Regions from separate parts of the Homo sapiens genome. Here region 2 is linked to region 1. The links come from fine-mapping of genetic effects on gene expression. Tissue or cell type: whole blood. Region 1 holds a variant in brackets; the other region holds the start of a gene. All regions are shown on one strand. Distances are between the middles of the regions.

What was found. PIP is the estimated chance that this variant, and not a neighbour inherited with it, causes the effect.
Region 2: PTPN12 starts here. The variant in region 1 is fine-mapped to the expression of PTPN12 in whole blood (INTERVAL, PIP 0.96).

The regions. Positions count from the first base shown.
Region 1 is chr7:77,607,994-77,616,099 of GRCh38, forward strand. PTPN12 (protein tyrosine phosphatase non-receptor type 12) reads left to right here. Exons shown (of 18, transcript NM_002835.4): 10 at 2,772-2,849; 11 at 2,955-3,053. Among named protein-coding and RNA genes, the nearest start is that of PTPN12, 75 kb to the left of the region's middle. The variant A/AT (reference allele first, on the strand shown) is at 3,556.
Region 2 is chr7:77,534,129-77,542,234 of GRCh38, forward strand. PTPN12 (protein tyrosine phosphatase non-receptor type 12) reads left to right here and starts at 3,167. Exons shown (of 18, transcript NM_002835.4): 1 at 3,167-3,517. The coding sequence starts at 3,419. It overlaps LOC124901681 (a long non-coding RNA gene), which reads right to left and starts at 2,821. Exons shown (of 3, transcript XR_007060395.1): 1 at 2,243-2,821; 2 at 81-2,153. RefSeq lists enhancers at 2,247-2,296, 2,467-2,686, 5,840-6,421 and silencers at 2,757-3,056, 3,307-3,516, 3,657-3,706.

The DNA of each region.
Region 1 (8,106 bases):
ATCCACTCATCTCGGCCTTCCAAAGTGCCGGGATTGTAGGCGTGAGCTACGGTGCCTGGCCCATTGCCTTTTATGTTTACTCTAGGTATAAGTGTATTTCACTCAGTATGTATTTATGCCTGCTGGAGACATTATAGTATTGTAGTCTATGAATGCTGACTCGAGCCAAATTGCCCAGATTATAATTCTGGCTTTCTCATTTACTAGCTGTGGGATCTTGGTCAAAATACTAATCCCATAGTGCCTCTATTTCTTTATCAGAAAATAGGGGTCATAGTAGTAGTAATGCATAAGAATTAAATAACTTTTGTGAAGTTCTTCAGAACTATGTGGTAAATTGTAAGTACTCAGTTTATTGTTAGTGTTGATTACTGTTGCTGTTGTGATTGTTGTTCCTACTACTGCTTTTTCCAAGAAATAGTGTTTGATACTGTGGATGATACAGAGATAAATAAGATACAGCCTTCATTATAGATTTGAAAAACAAGTCTCTTCATTATGTATACATTTGATTCTTTTGCTGGTTCCATAATGTGTTCATTTCTAGAGAGGCGCCTTTAATCCTTCATAGCTTTATAGTTTCCATGAATTGTTCATCTTTGTCTTGTACAGAGTAGAATTAATAAAATGTTTATTTTTTCTTTTTCTTCCTTCTTCCCCTTATTTCTCTTTTTTCCCTGCCATCTCTCCATTTTTTATTGTTGCAAGGAAATATTTACATGTTAAACAGTTCCTTAAAAAGCCCTCTGGGGTTAAATATTTTTTTCCTCAAAAACTATAATCATCTAATTCTCAAATGAAAATGCTTAAGTGAACAAAATTTAACTGGAATTCGATCACATTTTAACATAAAAGTCAAAGATTAAAATTGGAATGAGAAGGGACACATAAATGAATGCTAGCAAACAAAACAAACATTTGGTCATTTTAAAAGTTGTGTATTTTGGATAGGTGCCATGGCTTATGCCATAATTCCAGCACTTTTGAAGGCTGAGGTGGGCGGATCACCTGAGGTCAGGAGTTTGAGACCAACCTGGCCAACATGGTGAAACCCCATTTCTACTAAAAATACAAAAATTAGCCAGGCGTGGTGGCCGGCGCCTGTAATCCCAGTTACTTGTCAGGCTGAGGCAGGAGAATTGCTTGAACCTGGAAGGCAGAGGTTGCAGTGAGCCGAGATTGTGCCATTGCACTGCAAACTGGGTGACAGAGCAAGACTCCGTCTCAAAAAATAAAATAAAATAAAAGTTGTGTATTTTGAACATAGTTCTCTCTCTCTCTTTTTTTTTTTTTTTTGAGATGGAGTCTCACTCTGTTGCCTAGGCTGGAGGGCAGTGGTGTAATCTCGGCTCACTGCAACCTCTGACTCTCAGGTTCAAGCGATTCTCCTGCCTTAGTCTCCCGAGTAGCTGGGATTACATGCACGCGGCACCATGCCTGGCTAATTTTTGTATTTTTAGTAGAGATGGGGTTTCACCGTGTTTCGGGCTGGTCTCAAACTCCTGACCTCAGGTGATCCGCCTGCCTTGGCCTCTCAAAGTGCTGGGATTACAGACATGAGCCACTGCACCCGGCCTAGTTGTTAAGTCTTCATGTAAAAATCTTGGCTGGGCGCGGTGGCTCACGCCTGTAATCCCAGCACTTCGGGAAGCCGAGGCGGGCGGATCACGAGGTCAGCAGATTGAGACCACCCTGGCTAACACGGTGAAACCCTGTCTCTACTAAAAATATAAAAAAAATCGCCAGGCGTAGTGGCGGGGGCCTGTAGTCCCAGCTACTCCGGAGGCTGAGGCAGGAGAATGGCGTGAACCCGGGAGGCGGAGCTTGCAGTGAGCGGATATCACGCCACCGTACTCCAGCCTGGGCGACAGAGCGAGACTCCGTCTCAAAAAAAAAACAACAAAAAAAAAACCCAAAAATCTTATGATGTATATAAGGACTTCCAAGCAGCAAACCTGGAAATCATTTTTAACCCTTCCATCTTAATCACTCCAAAATATTCTTGTTGATAACAGTTATGATATTTCTGCTTCTGTAAACCTCCGCCAGTTTCTCACTCTTTCAGACTGTCCTCTTCCTTGATACAAAAATTGTGTGAATATCAGATCTTCTCATGTCAACATTGCCTATTGCAGTAGTCGCAATTCCATATACACAAAAGAATTGTCTAGGTCGTTTCATAATTAGTTCCCCAACTTGGAGCCAAAGGATCTATATTTTTACCTAGGTCTTTTAGCTGGTCCTTATATAGCCAATCCAGGAGATACTGGCCAATAGAATAAATTCAGTCTCTTTATTATGTTCACAGTCTGATCCTAAATATCCTTATCTTCTCTCCTCCTTTGAGTACCTTCTCCTTCTTTTAGTCTTAGGCTTTGTTTACATCAAACTTCTCAATTCCCCACATAGATTATACATTGAATCTGCTGTGCTTATGTATATTTCCTTCACTTTTTATGGGATAACCTTCTTTTGATATCCAACTATGTTGTAGCTGCACACACTCAACAGTTAGCCATAGCCTCTTTATTCCCTGTATACTGCAGTCATACTTTGGCTGGACATAACTGTCTCCCCATCTTGAATGCTGAGGGTCAAGAACAGTTTTGTTTCCACAGTGCCAAGCACAGTGTCTGAGATGCATTAAGTGGTGTTCAATAAATGTTTGCAGTAAACCAGCAGGTATTTAAGTTTTATGTGAAAAGCTGAAGAAGATTTTACTATTTTCTGAATAGATACACAAAGTTGATGTATTAAATTTTCTGTTTTAGAAAATACCAGAGGAATTTAATGTATTTAATTTAATACAAGAAATGAGAACACAAAGGCATTCTGCAGTACAAACAAAGGTATAGTTGTTTGTTTCCCTTTATAAACTGCTATTTTATAAATGCTTTCTTCTTTTTTAAAATGTTGTTTTCATTTTGTTTTTTAATCATTTTTCTCCTTCATAGGAGCAATATGAACTTGTTCATAGAGCTATTGCCCAACTGTTTGAAAAACAGCTACAACTATATGAAATTCATGGAGCTCAGAAAATTGCTGATGGAGTGGTAGGTGTTCTTGGTCTATTAATTTTAGGAAACTTTTACTCTTTGTTAAGATGTAATATTTAGCCTTTTTTTTGTTGTCTTGTGTTTTGTCTAACATGAGAAGAATATCCAGGACACTTAACATTTTTACTTAAACTCATTTCCTTCTTATTCGTATCTGTATTATGATGGCTATTTAATGACTCCGATATAAGGTAAATTATGTTCTAAATGAAATAAAGTTAGGAAAGATCTCATGTCAAAAATCATATAATTCGTTAATGTTTTACTTTTTTAAAAAATAATTGCATTGTTCTCTTTACTCTTCCCTTCCACCCCCACCCAAGTAATTCTGCATTGATTCTACTTGAATTTCATTTTGTATAAAGTGTTTTAGTTATTTGTGTATATGCTTTTCTTTTCTTTTCTTTTTTTTGAGACAGAGTTTCACTCTTGTTGCCCAGGCTGGAGTGCAATGGCACAGTCTCAGCTCACTGCAACCTCTACCTCCCAAGTTCAAGTG[A/AT]TTTTCCTGCCTCAGCCTCCTGAGTAGCTGGGATTACAGGCGCACGCCACTGTGCCCAGCTAGTTTTTGTATTTTTAGTAGAGACGGAGTTTCGCCATGTTGACCAGGCTGGTCTCGAACTCCTGACCTCAGGTGGTCTGCCCGCCTTGGCCTCCCAGTGTGCAATGTGCTGGGATTACAGGCATGAGCCAACACTCCTGGCCTTGTGTATATGCTTTTCAGTTAAGCAGAATTAAAGAGCCACAGTTAACTCCCTTTTGTTGTGTTATAATTCAGTGTTATTTTAGCCTTGTAACATCTTACTGGATATTCAACTTCTAGACCTGACAAAAACACTGTATTCTCTTAGTATTCTCATTTCTGCCTTTGTTTTCTAACCAATTGTCTTGCTTCAATTCTATATATAACCACCTTGTCCCTGAAGGTGCTGAGATTTTTTTTTTTTTTTTGTAGAATTTGTTTACATCTTTGTCATTGAGTCTATGATAACTATTACATTGTTAAACCAAGTATGAGAAAATAAGTTGCAAAATTTATAACCTTCATTTTCCTTTTCTCCCTTTAAATGGTTTTGTCAGTTCCCAGAATATTTGTTTGAATTTTCTTGGTTTTCCAAATGACAGATTTATTACCAAATGCTGATCTCAGTTTGTTAGGATAATCTAATATCGGTCCATGAGTTTTAGGAAATATGCATTTCTTTTATTAGCCAAGTGACAATTTCACGTTTTTAAGTTTTATGTGACATCGTTCTTATTCCTTTATTAACATAGGAATTATTGTGCAAGGAAATCCTCCTACAATGCCTTTAGCTTAATTAAATCCTATTATGACATGCTCTGAATCTAGCCAAATATTTTATAATGTAGAATCAAATGTGTTTTTGTTTTGTTTTATTTTGTTTTTTGAAATGGAGTTTCACTATTGTTGCCCAGGCTGGAGTGCAATGGTGCAATCTTGGCTCACCGTAACCTCCGCCTCCCAGGTTCAAGCGATTCTCCTGCCTCAGCCTCCCTAGTAGCTGGGATCACAAGCATGTGCCACCACACCTGGCTAATTTTGTATTTTTAATAGAGACGGAGTTTGTCCATGTTGGTCAGGCTGGTCTCGAACTCCCAACCTCAGGTGATCCGCCTGCCTCAGCCTCCCAAGTGCTAGGATTACAGGCATGAGCCACCGCGCCCGGCCTCGAATGTGTTTTTTGTTTGTTTTGTTTGATTGGTTTTTTTTGTTTTTTGGTTTTTGGTTTTTTTTTTGATGACGAAGTCTCACTCTGTCACTTAGGCTGGAGTGCAGTGGCGCAACCTCTGCCTCCCGGGTTCAAGCGATTCTCCTGCCTCAGCCTCCTGAATAGCTGGGATTACAGGCATGTATCACCACATCCAGCTAATTTTTGTATTTTTAGTAGAGATGGGGTTTTGCATGTTGGCCAGGCTAGTCTCAAACTCCTGACCTCAGGCGATCCCCCTGCCTCAGCCTCCCAAAGTGCTAGGATTATAGGTGTGAGCCACTGCACCCGGCCAAACATTTGTATTATTTTGTATAATTTAATCTAAGTTGAGATATTTAATATTTCGAAAAGCTGAGTAGGCTATAAACAGTTTTCTTTAATTTTTGGGTTTTTTTTTTTTTTTTTTTTTTTTTGAGATGGAGTCTCGCTCTGTTGCCCAGAATGGAGTGCAGTAGCACAGTCTCGGCTCACTGCAACCTCTGCCTCCCGGGTTCATGTGATTTTCCTGCCTCAGCCTCCCAAGTAGCTGAGATTACAGGCGCCCACCACCATGCTCAGCTAATTTTTGTATTTTTAGTAGAGACAGGGTTTCACCATGTTGGCCAGGCTGGTCTTAAACTCCTGACCTCAAGTGATCCACCCACCTCAGCCTCCCAAAGTGCCAGGATTACAGGCATAAGCTACTGCACCCAGCATCTTTAAACTTTAATTGAAAAGCATTTCTGTTTTATTCCATGAATTCAAGATTAATTTCAAAGCTAAAGTTTTTATATCTGGAAATACAGGTTTTTAGGCTGGATGCAGTGGCTCATGCCTGGAATCCCAGCACTTTGGGAGGCCGAAGCAGGCAGGATCACCTGAGGCCAAGAGTTGAAGACCAGCCTGGGCAACATGGCAAAACCCCGTCTCTACCAAAAATACAAAAAAGATTAGCCTCCCAGACTCACGGGTACATCACCTTGCCGAGTTTATTTTTTTTATAGAGATGAGGTTTTACTGTGTTGCCCAGCCTGGTCTCAAATCCTTGGACTCAAGCAATCCATCCGCCTCAGCCTCCCAAAGTGCAGGAATTATAGGCTAAAGTTCTTTTATTGCAATATTCAGTGTTTGGGTTTTGTTTTGTTTTGTTTGAGACGAGGTCTTGCTATTTCACCCAGGCCAGAGTGCAGTGGAACAATCAGGGCTCACTGCGCCCTCAACCTCCCGGACTCAAGCTTTCCTCCTGCCTCAGCCTCCCAAGTAGCTGAGACTATAGGCACATATACCACACCTAGCTAATTAAAAAAAAATTTTTTTTTGTAGAGATGTTGCCAGGTTGGTCTTGAGCTCCTGGGCTCCAACAGTCCTCCCCCACCTCAGCCTCCCAAAGCACTGAGATTACAGGCATGAGCCATTGTGCCCAGCTATTGTTGTATTTTTTAAAACTTTTAACTATATTTAAATAATCTCCAGAAAATATGTGATAAATACCGCATCACCTTTTCATCTTTTTCTAATTAGATCAAAGTCTGATCTTTGTAAGGTTTTATTCCATTGAATCAATCCTTTTTTAATATCCTGAAATCTATACTAGGATTATAATTCTATCATAGGCTCTTTCTGTCTAATAGGTCAGAGCTTTACGGGAATATAATAAAAAAGTCATACTTTGTAGGAGATGAGATGAAATAATACCCATAGCAGATAAGTAGTTAACTTCAAACCTACTTTCGTACCTCATTGCATGGTACATAGTAGACATAAACTAAATGTTTGAGAGAAATCTCTCCATAGATGAATGGATAAATAGTAAAAAAAAACAGAAGAAAAGATGGATTATCATTCCAGATAACTTTTTAGTATTTTCTTCTTAAGAAATCATGTTTTCTGTAAACTTGTAAATATAGGTGACTCTTTTTATAGGATGGCTGTCTGTGGTTGCAGACCATAAATCTTAAAGAAAATGTGGAATCTGAAAAATTGAGAAAAATCATCTTAGAACTGTGTGGTTGAATGAAATGACTTGAAAGGTGTATTAACTATTTAGAAGCTATGCTGTGAGAAGTAAAAATAAGTCCCCACTTACTACTTTTCTGACAATTTAATCGGTAAAAGTTTTGTTTAAATGTTCTGTGTTCCAGTATTATTTCTGTAGAAATTTTAGTTTGATATACTAGTTGGTTGTTTAAGACTTTAAAATGAATAGTGTTTTTTAGAGATATTTATAACTACAGTGACTTCCTGGAGTGAGAGATCTAAAGAGAAAATTTATTCTGTAAGCCTGTATCATATTGACTGAGGATTTAGAGGTACCTTAATAAGCAAACATCTGTTAAGTTGTGCAGTGTGCCTTTTTATCTTGTGTGTAAAGGACACCGTTACAAGTACTGTCAACACCAGTATTTCAGTTCTAGAATGATTAAGTAATAGCAATAACAGTTTGTATTATCGTCCTTTTATTGTGTTTGTATAGTACATTTTAGATGTGATAATGAATTCTGGATTTTTTTTCCTAAAATATAATTTTTTTATTTTTAAAGCACCCTGATTTATAATTTATTTTCTTCTGCAGCTGATAATATTCTTAAATATTAGATAATTTGTTTCTTAATGTTTTTGTAGCATTTCATAAAGCTGTTATATGGAAAATAACAGTACGCAAGATAACTTTAGAAAGTTCTGTTTAAAACAAGAGAACACAGGCTAGGCGCCGTGGCTCATTTCATGCCTATAATCCCAGCTCTTTGGGATGCCAGGGCAGGAGAATTGCTTGAGACCAGGAGTTTGAGACCTGCCAGGGCGACAAAGCGAGACCCCATCTATACAAAACAATTTTTTTTTAATTACCTGGGTATGGTAGCACGTGCCTGTAGTCCTAGCTACTTGGGAGGCTGAGATGGAAGGATTGTTTGAGCCCAGGAGTTCAAGGCTGCAGAGGTATGATCATGCCACTGCATTAGATTATTTAATTCCTAAAATTCTTTTCCATTTCAAAAGTTGGTGATTGCTTCAGCAAGTTGTATACATGACAAATGTGGACTCAAAAATTATAGGTAATAAAAGAGAGTCAGAAGATGTGGGTGTGTAGGAGACATTAACTAGGAAATCCAAGAACATTGTGAAGTCCAGTGACCAGGAGGTTTTGTACATGCTGTTTAGGTAGTGGCTCTTTATCGAATTGCAGTTCTGCATTGTCACATTGATTCCTTTCATCAGAGGAAACTCAGTATGTTCTGAAAGCTAATCTCTCCCAGAAGCTCTCTTTTGGTTCTTCCTGTTAATGGCTTCATCCTGCTCTTACTCACCCAGAATGAGGAATCCTTCATGAAACCTTTACTTTC
Region 2 (8,106 bases), 74 kb before region 1:
CACTTCCCAGACGGGGTGGCTGCCGGGCGGAGGGTCTCCTCACTTCTCAGACGGGGCAGCCGGGCAGAGACGCTCCTCACCTCCCAGACGGGGTGGCAGCCGGGCAGGGGCGCTCCTCACATCCCAGACGGGGCGGCGGGGCAGAGGCGCTCCCCACATCCCAGACGATGGGCGGCCGGGCAGAGACGCTCCTCACTTCCTAGATGTGATGGCGGCCGGAAGAGGCGCTCCTCACTTCCCAGATGGGATGGCGGCCGGGCAGAGAGGCTCCTCACTTCCTAGATGTGATGGCGGCCAGGCAGAGACGCTCCTCACTTCCCAGACGGGGTGGCGGCCGGGCAGAGGCTGCAATCTCGGCACTTTGGGAGGCCAAGGCAGGCGGCTGGAAGGTGGAGGTTGTAGCGAGCCGAGATCACGCCACTGCACTCCAGCCTGGGCACCATTGAGCACTGAGTGAACCAGACTCCGTCTGCAATCCCGGCACCTCGGGAGGCCGAGGCTGGCGGATCACTCGCGGTTAGGAGCTGGAGACCAGCCCGGCCAACACAGCGAAACCCCGTTTCCACCAAAAAAATACGAAAACCAGTCAGGCGTGGCGGCGCGCGCCTGCAATTGCAGGCACTCCGCAGGCGGAGGCAGGAGAATCAGGCAGGGAGGCTCTTTTTTTTTTTTAGAGACAGAGTTTCGCTCTTGTTGCCCAGGCTGGAGTGCAATGGCGTGATCTCGCTCAATGCAACCTCCGCCTCCTGGGTTCAAGCAATTCTCCTGCCTCAGCCTCCTGACTAGCTGGGATTACAGGCATGCGTCACCACGCCCGGCTAATTTTTTGTATTTTTAGTAAAGACGGGGTTGGTTTCACCATATTGGCCAGGCTGGTCTTGAACTCCTGACCTCAGGTGATCCGCCCGCCTCGGCCTCCCAAAGGGTTGGGATTACAGGTGTGAACCATCGCGCCTGGCCTTTTTATTTTTATTTTTTGAGACAGACTCTCGCTCTTTCACCCAGGCTGGAGTGTGGTGGCACGACCTCGGCTCACTGCAATCTCCGCCTCTCAGGTTCAGGCGATTCTTCTGCCTCAGCCTCTGGAGTACCTGGGACTACAGGCGTGCACCACCACACCCGGCTTTGTATTTTTAGCAGAGACAGGGTTTCACCATATCGGCCAGGTTGGTCTCGAACTCCTGACCTCAAGTGATCCACCCAACTCGGCCTCCCGAAGTGCTAGGATTACAGGTGTGAGCCACTGCACCTGGTCTGAAGTGCATATTTCTGGAGTGGATGTATTAGTTGGATTATTTTAACAGAAATATTTTCCTTTTTTTGAAGAAGTAAATAAACTATATCCTGTTACACCTATTTTCTTTTCTTTTTTTTTTTTTTGAGACAGGGCCTCACTCCCGTCGCCCAGGTTGGGGTGCAATGGTGTGATCACAGCTCACTGCAACCTCCGCCTCCCGGGTTCAGGTGATCCTCCCATCTCGGCCTCCCAAAGTGCTGGGATTACAGGCGTGAGCCACCGCGCCCGGCCTACACCTATTTTCTTCAATGAGTTTTTCACTAAATTCCATAGTGCTCCTAACTTTCATCTGAGAAAGTATTCTACCACTGATATTTCCTATTATAACCAAATTCGCTGACCAATCTGCTCTGTAAAAAAAGGTTTGTGGGTATAAATGACGAAAGTCAGTTCATGGATCAAATCCTTCAGTTCTGTCACATTGTGAGAGGCCACTGTTGTGAAAGTAAAATAACTTCTAGTTACGGCTCTGCTAAGAATACGCTGGGGGATGTCAGGAAGTCGCTTTATTTGTAAAATGATGAGTTAGACCAGAATATATTCTCTGATAGAAGTTTACAAAGATGAATAAAGATTTATAGGCTAGGCGCGGTGGCTCACGCCTAAAATCCCAACACTTTCGGAAGCTGAGGATCCCTAGTGCACAGGAATTCGAGATCAGCCTGGGCAACCTGGTGAGACCCCCTTCTCTACCAAAAATAAATAAATAAATAAATAATAAATTTTTAAAATGTATTAGCTGGGCTTGGTGACGTAGTGAGGCAGGAGGATGCCTTGAGCCCAGGAGTTCAAGGCTGCAGCGAGCCGTGATCATAGCACTGCACTTTGGCATGGGAGATAGAGCAAGACCTTAGCTCTAAAAAAAAAAAAAAAAAAAAATTAATAGATTTATAAAGTCCATTCTATGGAGGAAAGTCTCTTATTCAGTTATGAACTGCTGCGAACCTAAAGGCAGGAAGGCAAATTCCCTTCAGTTCGGCAAACACGAAGACCCCACATTCGCGTCGTCTGTGAAGAAGGCACTCCGAACCTCAGGCGCTCACTCGCCAGGTTTAAGAGGATGAGCAAAGAATAAAAGTCCTCTCACCCAGGAAGCGTTTCGCTTCCCTTAGCTGGAGCCACGCTCCAAGGTGCCAAAGCCTAATTGCTGTCCACTCTCACCAATCCGTTAGCAAGATGAGCATCTACCTGCTGCGAACGTGGCGGTGACACTACTACAGCTCCCAGCCTGCCTCCCGCCCGCCCCCACTCCTGGACTCCACAGACCGTGACTTGTAGTCCCAGCCCACGGCTGGCGGCGGTGCGGGACTCCTGAAAACTGCTTTTCCTCCCTAGTAGGCGGTGAGACCGCAAATTCCATCAGAATCCTACTCTGACCCACTAGGGCTTGGCCCGCTCAGAGTCGCATTCCCTCCTCCAAATGAACCAACTCTCCTCCCAGCGATACTCCGACCTCTGAGCACCCCGGGCGGGGCCACGCCCCGGAAATGGAGTCAGGTCTCCAGGCCGCCCGCTGAAGTGCCTTCCAGCCACTCCAAGCGGGGCTGGGGCCGGCGGGGCGGGCTTGGGGGCGTGGCCGGGAGGCGGGCGGGGATGCATCTGCGGGCGCAGCGCTTGGGGCGGAGCCGCAGCGCGAGGCCGCGCATCTGGGTGGCGGCGGGGACGCGCCCGTGGGGAGAGGCGGCTGCGGCTGCGGCTGCGGCTGCTGGCGGGGGGTGGGGGGGAGGAGGAACCGGGAAGGGGGGGCAGGGCGAGCGGAGAGCTAGCTGTGTTCCTGAGGCGGCGGCGGCGGCGGCGGCGGCGGCGGCGTCTCCGACGGAGGAGGAGGGCGGGGAAGGAGGATGGAGCAAGCTGGGGGTTGGGGTTGGCGCTAGCGCAGCGGCTCGCCTGGTACTGTGGGAGAGCGGCGGCTGCTCCTGGAAGTTGTGGTGTCGGGAGCCCAGCCGGTGCCGCCGCAGCCGCCGCCTAGGGCGGTGGGGAGGAGGAGGGAGCCGCGGGGCTTGGCGGGGTCGGGAGGGAGGGACGTGCTGGGGGAACGAGCTGGGGAAGACGGAGCGGGCTCTGTGCCGGGCGGGCGGGCGGCGGGGGGGCCAGCGACCGCAGCCGGGGGGACGCGGGAGGATGGAGCAAGTGGAGATCCTGAGGAAATTCATCCAGAGGGTCCAGGCCATGAAGAGTCCTGACCACAATGGGGAGGACAACTTCGCCCGGGACTTCATGGTGAGTCTCTCCCCTCGCTGTCGCGTTTTCTTGCCGGCGCCGGAGCCCATCGCCGCCTCTCCCGGCCGGGCCGCCAGTGCTTTGTGTACCTCTGTGAGGAGAGGGGCGGAGGGGGCGCGCACCAGCCGGGTGAGCCGGGTGGTCTCGGAGGCCAGCGGGAGGCGAGAGCGCCTCCCCCCGTGGCCTCCTTTCTTCTCCCATGTTCGCGACCCCCGCGCGGGTTCCCGGGACGCGAAGGGAGCGGCCGCGCGGCCGAGCCCGCAGCCTGCACCGTGGCTCGCGACCACCTATTGTTTACCGGGCCGGGAGCCGTAGGCAAGTGAGGTGCAGGCCGGGGGGGGGGGCTCGCGTTTCCACACCTCCCCGCGCAGTTCGCTCCTCCCAGGAGGGTCGAGGCAAGGTATCTGGCTGTGACCGGGAGGAGTGCAGATCGTGGCTGACAGAGGAACGGGGGTATTGAGGTTGGCACTAACTCCTGGGATCCCTTTGCTCTAGCTGGTCTCAAAGCGGGCAGGGTAGGACTTAGGCCGTTTCTGGGGTCGCAGTCATGATCTCCAACGCTTGGGAAAGGATTGCCCATAAGGAATCTCATGGGTTTACCTAATTTCCATTTACCCGCGTCCCGCTTCTCCTCTCCTGAGGCCCAGGTTTGAGGTGGTCTTGGGGTCCGTGTGACTATAGGTTCAGGGGATAAGTGTGGGTGGGGGAATTATCCTGAAGGAAGCCAGCCGACTTCGGACTCCCCAGGGGATATTGCCGAAGGCGGAGGGGATGTGACTATCACTTCCTATCCGGGGTGGGGGTGGGGAACTTGGGAACAATAGTCCTGGTGGGGCGGAGGCGACGCTACGGGCCGAAGCCCTGAACTGGGAGATAACCTTCCCAGCGCCCCCCCGCCTCCGCCACCCCCTACTTTCCGCCCTCTGCTTGTGCAGGCAGTCTTGAGAGGAGGTGAAGGTTAAAAGTCTTGTTCATGAAATTGCTCTAGATACACTATTGCTTTAGCACACTGTGAGGGGGTCAGATCCGAAGGCGTGAGACCAGAAGTCGACTTCCTACGTTACCCACCCCCCCAACCCCCGCCCTTTTTATTTTTCTGCTGGACAATGTTCCCTCTAGGGTTGTTTCCCGGCTTAGGAGGCGGTGGTTGCGGCTGCTGCTCCTACGGATATTGCGCAAGACTGGGGCGTTGGAAACCCTGTAGGTCTGGGGAATGAAAAAGGAAGTGGGACTTTGGGAAGTGGTTGCTCCTTAGTCTTGGCGGGGGTTGGGAATGGGAAATAAGCTGGGGAAAATTTTTATCTTGGGTAAGGTACACCTCGAAGAATAATCACTTAATTCTGAAATCTGATTATGAGAAGGATACACAGTTAATGCCTGTAAAATGAATGGGCAGCAAACATTGGCTAGTTTTTATTTTTTGTTTAAAAAGTACAGTAGTTTTTATGGTGGAGGTGATATGACTTAGTAGTGAATACTTTTTCACGTTTTAAAGAGACTGGTCTAGTAAAGCTTTAGCGTTAAATTTTTAACAGCTTATAAAATAGGCCCTTGACCATACACAGTATTATACTAGCATCGTTGAGCTTTGTGATTCCCGCCTCCCCAGACCAATAATAGAGGACGGAAGTAAAGTTTTCTCAGTATCTTTTGAAGATTGAAAATATAAGTTAAATAATCTAACTTATTCCTTATTAAAAATAAAAATATTGCTTATATTTAAACATTTGCTCTTGATATTTAGCCTATGTATTTTTGAAAAATTACTTTTTGATCTGAAAGGGTTAAGGAAAACGGCATTTTCCCTTTTTACTATTGAGAGTTTTTATTGTCTTGGTATCTTTTGAATGGTGTCATTTACAGCAATTGGATGGAGTCCCTTTTTTACTACTTTCTAGCAAAAGTAGAAGAAAATACTTTGAATATTTAAGATGTTTAAAACTAGTTTTTTTGGGTTTTGTTGTTTGGTTGGTTGGTTGGTTGGTTTTTTTTTTGAGACGGAGTCTCGCTCTACGCTCTGTCGCCCCGGCTGGAGTGCAGCGGCGCAATCTCAGCTCACTGCAACCTCTGCCTCCCAGATTCAAGCGATGCTCCTGCCTCAGCCTCCTGAGTAGCTGAGATTATAGGCACGTGCCACCACGCCCGGCTAATTTTTGTCCGAAGTAGCCGGGACTACAGGCGCAAGCTACCACGCCCTGCTAATTTTGTATTTTTAGTAGAGATGGGGTTTCGCCATATTTGCAGGCTGCTCTCGAACTCCTCATCTCAAGTGATCCATCTGCTTTGGCCTCCCAAAGTGCTGGGATTACAGGCGTGAGCCACCATGCCCGGCCTAAAACTAGTTTTTTACCGTCTTACTTTGGTTATGGAAGAAGAGATGGTGTGGTCCCTGGTCATTTCTTGTTTGCATGCTAGTCACCTTGTTATCCCTAGGCATATACCGTCAGGAAGGAGCATTGTTTGGTGATGCGGGCCATCAGGACAGGTTGCCCAGCCTCTGAACTCCTGTACTGGAGAAGTGGCCTTAGGGTTCATGCTTTGGGGATGAGTCAGGGATTCCTATTGGAGAGTTCATTTCTTTCTTTCTTTCTTTCTTTCTTTTTTTTTTGAGATGTAACACCTCGCTGTGTCGCCCAGGTTGGAGTGCAGTGGCTCAATCTCGGCTCACTGCATCCTCCACCTCCCAGGTTCAAGCGATTCTCCTGCCTCAGCCTCCTGAGTAGCTGAGATTACAGGCGCATGCCACCACGCCTGGCTAATTTTTGTATTTTTAGTAGAGATGGGATTTCACCATATTGGCCAGACTGGTCTTGAACTTTCATCTGACTGACTTTGTGATCTGCCCGCCTCAGCCTCCCAAAGTGCTAGGATTACAGGCATGAGCCACCGAGAGTTCATTTCTCCAAGAGTAAATGAGTTTCCTTTTTCTTCCATGATACCTAGGTATAGCTAGGTGATTCTACATTAGAGATTTGATGACTAAGGCTATTCTTTTATAGGGCTTTTTTTTTTTTTAATTTCCTGACTTGATAAGCAATAGCTGTAATTAAGACAGCCGGTAGTTGGTGCTGCTTTTTCCCCTGACTGGAAGGCTGGAGAGGAACTATGTTCTCCTGGCATGGAAAGAGAAAAAAAAGATTAGCTTATAGATTCTATTATTTTTAAATTCTGATGTCGATTAAAAATGCATTTTAAATTCTTAACATTTTATGACTGAGCCTTAGAGATAATGTAGCTGATATAACTGTTCCATCATAAAATAATGTTTATTCCAAATTTGGAAATTAATAGAATAATAATAATGCCTTACACTTAGACCACAGTTCAAATGAACACTCCACTTGCCTGACTGGTGATGATGCTCTTTTCGCTCTATCCAGCTGTCCTACAGTCCTGTCATTTAAAGGCTACCTCTGTTAATATTTTTTGGTTTTGTTTTGTTTTGTTGTTTTGTTCTGTTTTTGAGACAGGGTCTCACTCTGTCACCCAGGCTGGAGTGCATGGTTGCGATCCTGGCTCACGGCAGCGTCGGTCTCCCTGGGCTCAGGTGATCCTCCCACTTCAGCCTCCAGAGTAGCTGGGGCTATGGGCCCACCCCACCAAGCCCTGCTGATTTTTGTATTTTTTGTAGAGACAGGGTTTCCCCATGTTGCCCAGGCTGGTCTCAAACTCCTGGGCTCAAGCAATCCACCTGCCTCAGCCTCAAAGTGCTGGGGTTACAGGTGTGAGCCACCGTAGCCGGCCTACTACTTGGTAACTATCTTATATCTTAATTTTGTTTCTTTATGTTTGAGTATTTAGGTCATTCTACTTTCTGCTGTTACATATAGTAATTCTGTGATTAACATTTTTGCTGAAACTGACATTTTTCACTGTTGCATAAGATAGCTTCCCAGGAGTACTAGGTAGACGTATATAAACATTTAATACATGTTCATAAACTTGAAAAAGTTTTGTCAGTTTATACAACTGTCATAATGTATGAGTGTTCATATTATAATTTTCTTGATCTTTATTTGATGGTTGAAAACTGATATCTTGTTTTAACTTGAATTTCTTGATTACTATTGAGGATAGAAATTTTCCACCTGTCATTACTATTCTATGAGTGTCTATTCCTGGCCTTGGTTGTGCCCCATACTGTTAAAGAGGAGACAGCTAAGGTACCCAGACTGTGCAGAACTATGTTGCCTAGATGGTTATTTGCATGTTGAAAACATGCTAATTTTGCTAATAAATTAGCAAATAGCTAATTTGTGGCTGATCCAGAATTTGATCTCAATTATCTCTACTTTTAATATTTACAAAATGAGAGATAAATGTATAAAGTAGGGTGGTGCACATTCATGTTTGACAGACCTAGGTTTTAACTCCACACAGACTCCCTCTGATGGCTGGGGGTTGGGGAGGTGGTCCTGGACCATACTTTGAGAACCAGTGAGCTAATACATGGTAAATGATAAAGGTAATGCTGGGAAAGTTAGGTAGAGGTCTTTTTGTGAAGGATCTTACATCTATGCTATACTTAGATTTTATTCTACAGACCGATAATAGCAATTCTGGACAGTCTGCATTGTAACTCCTAGAGA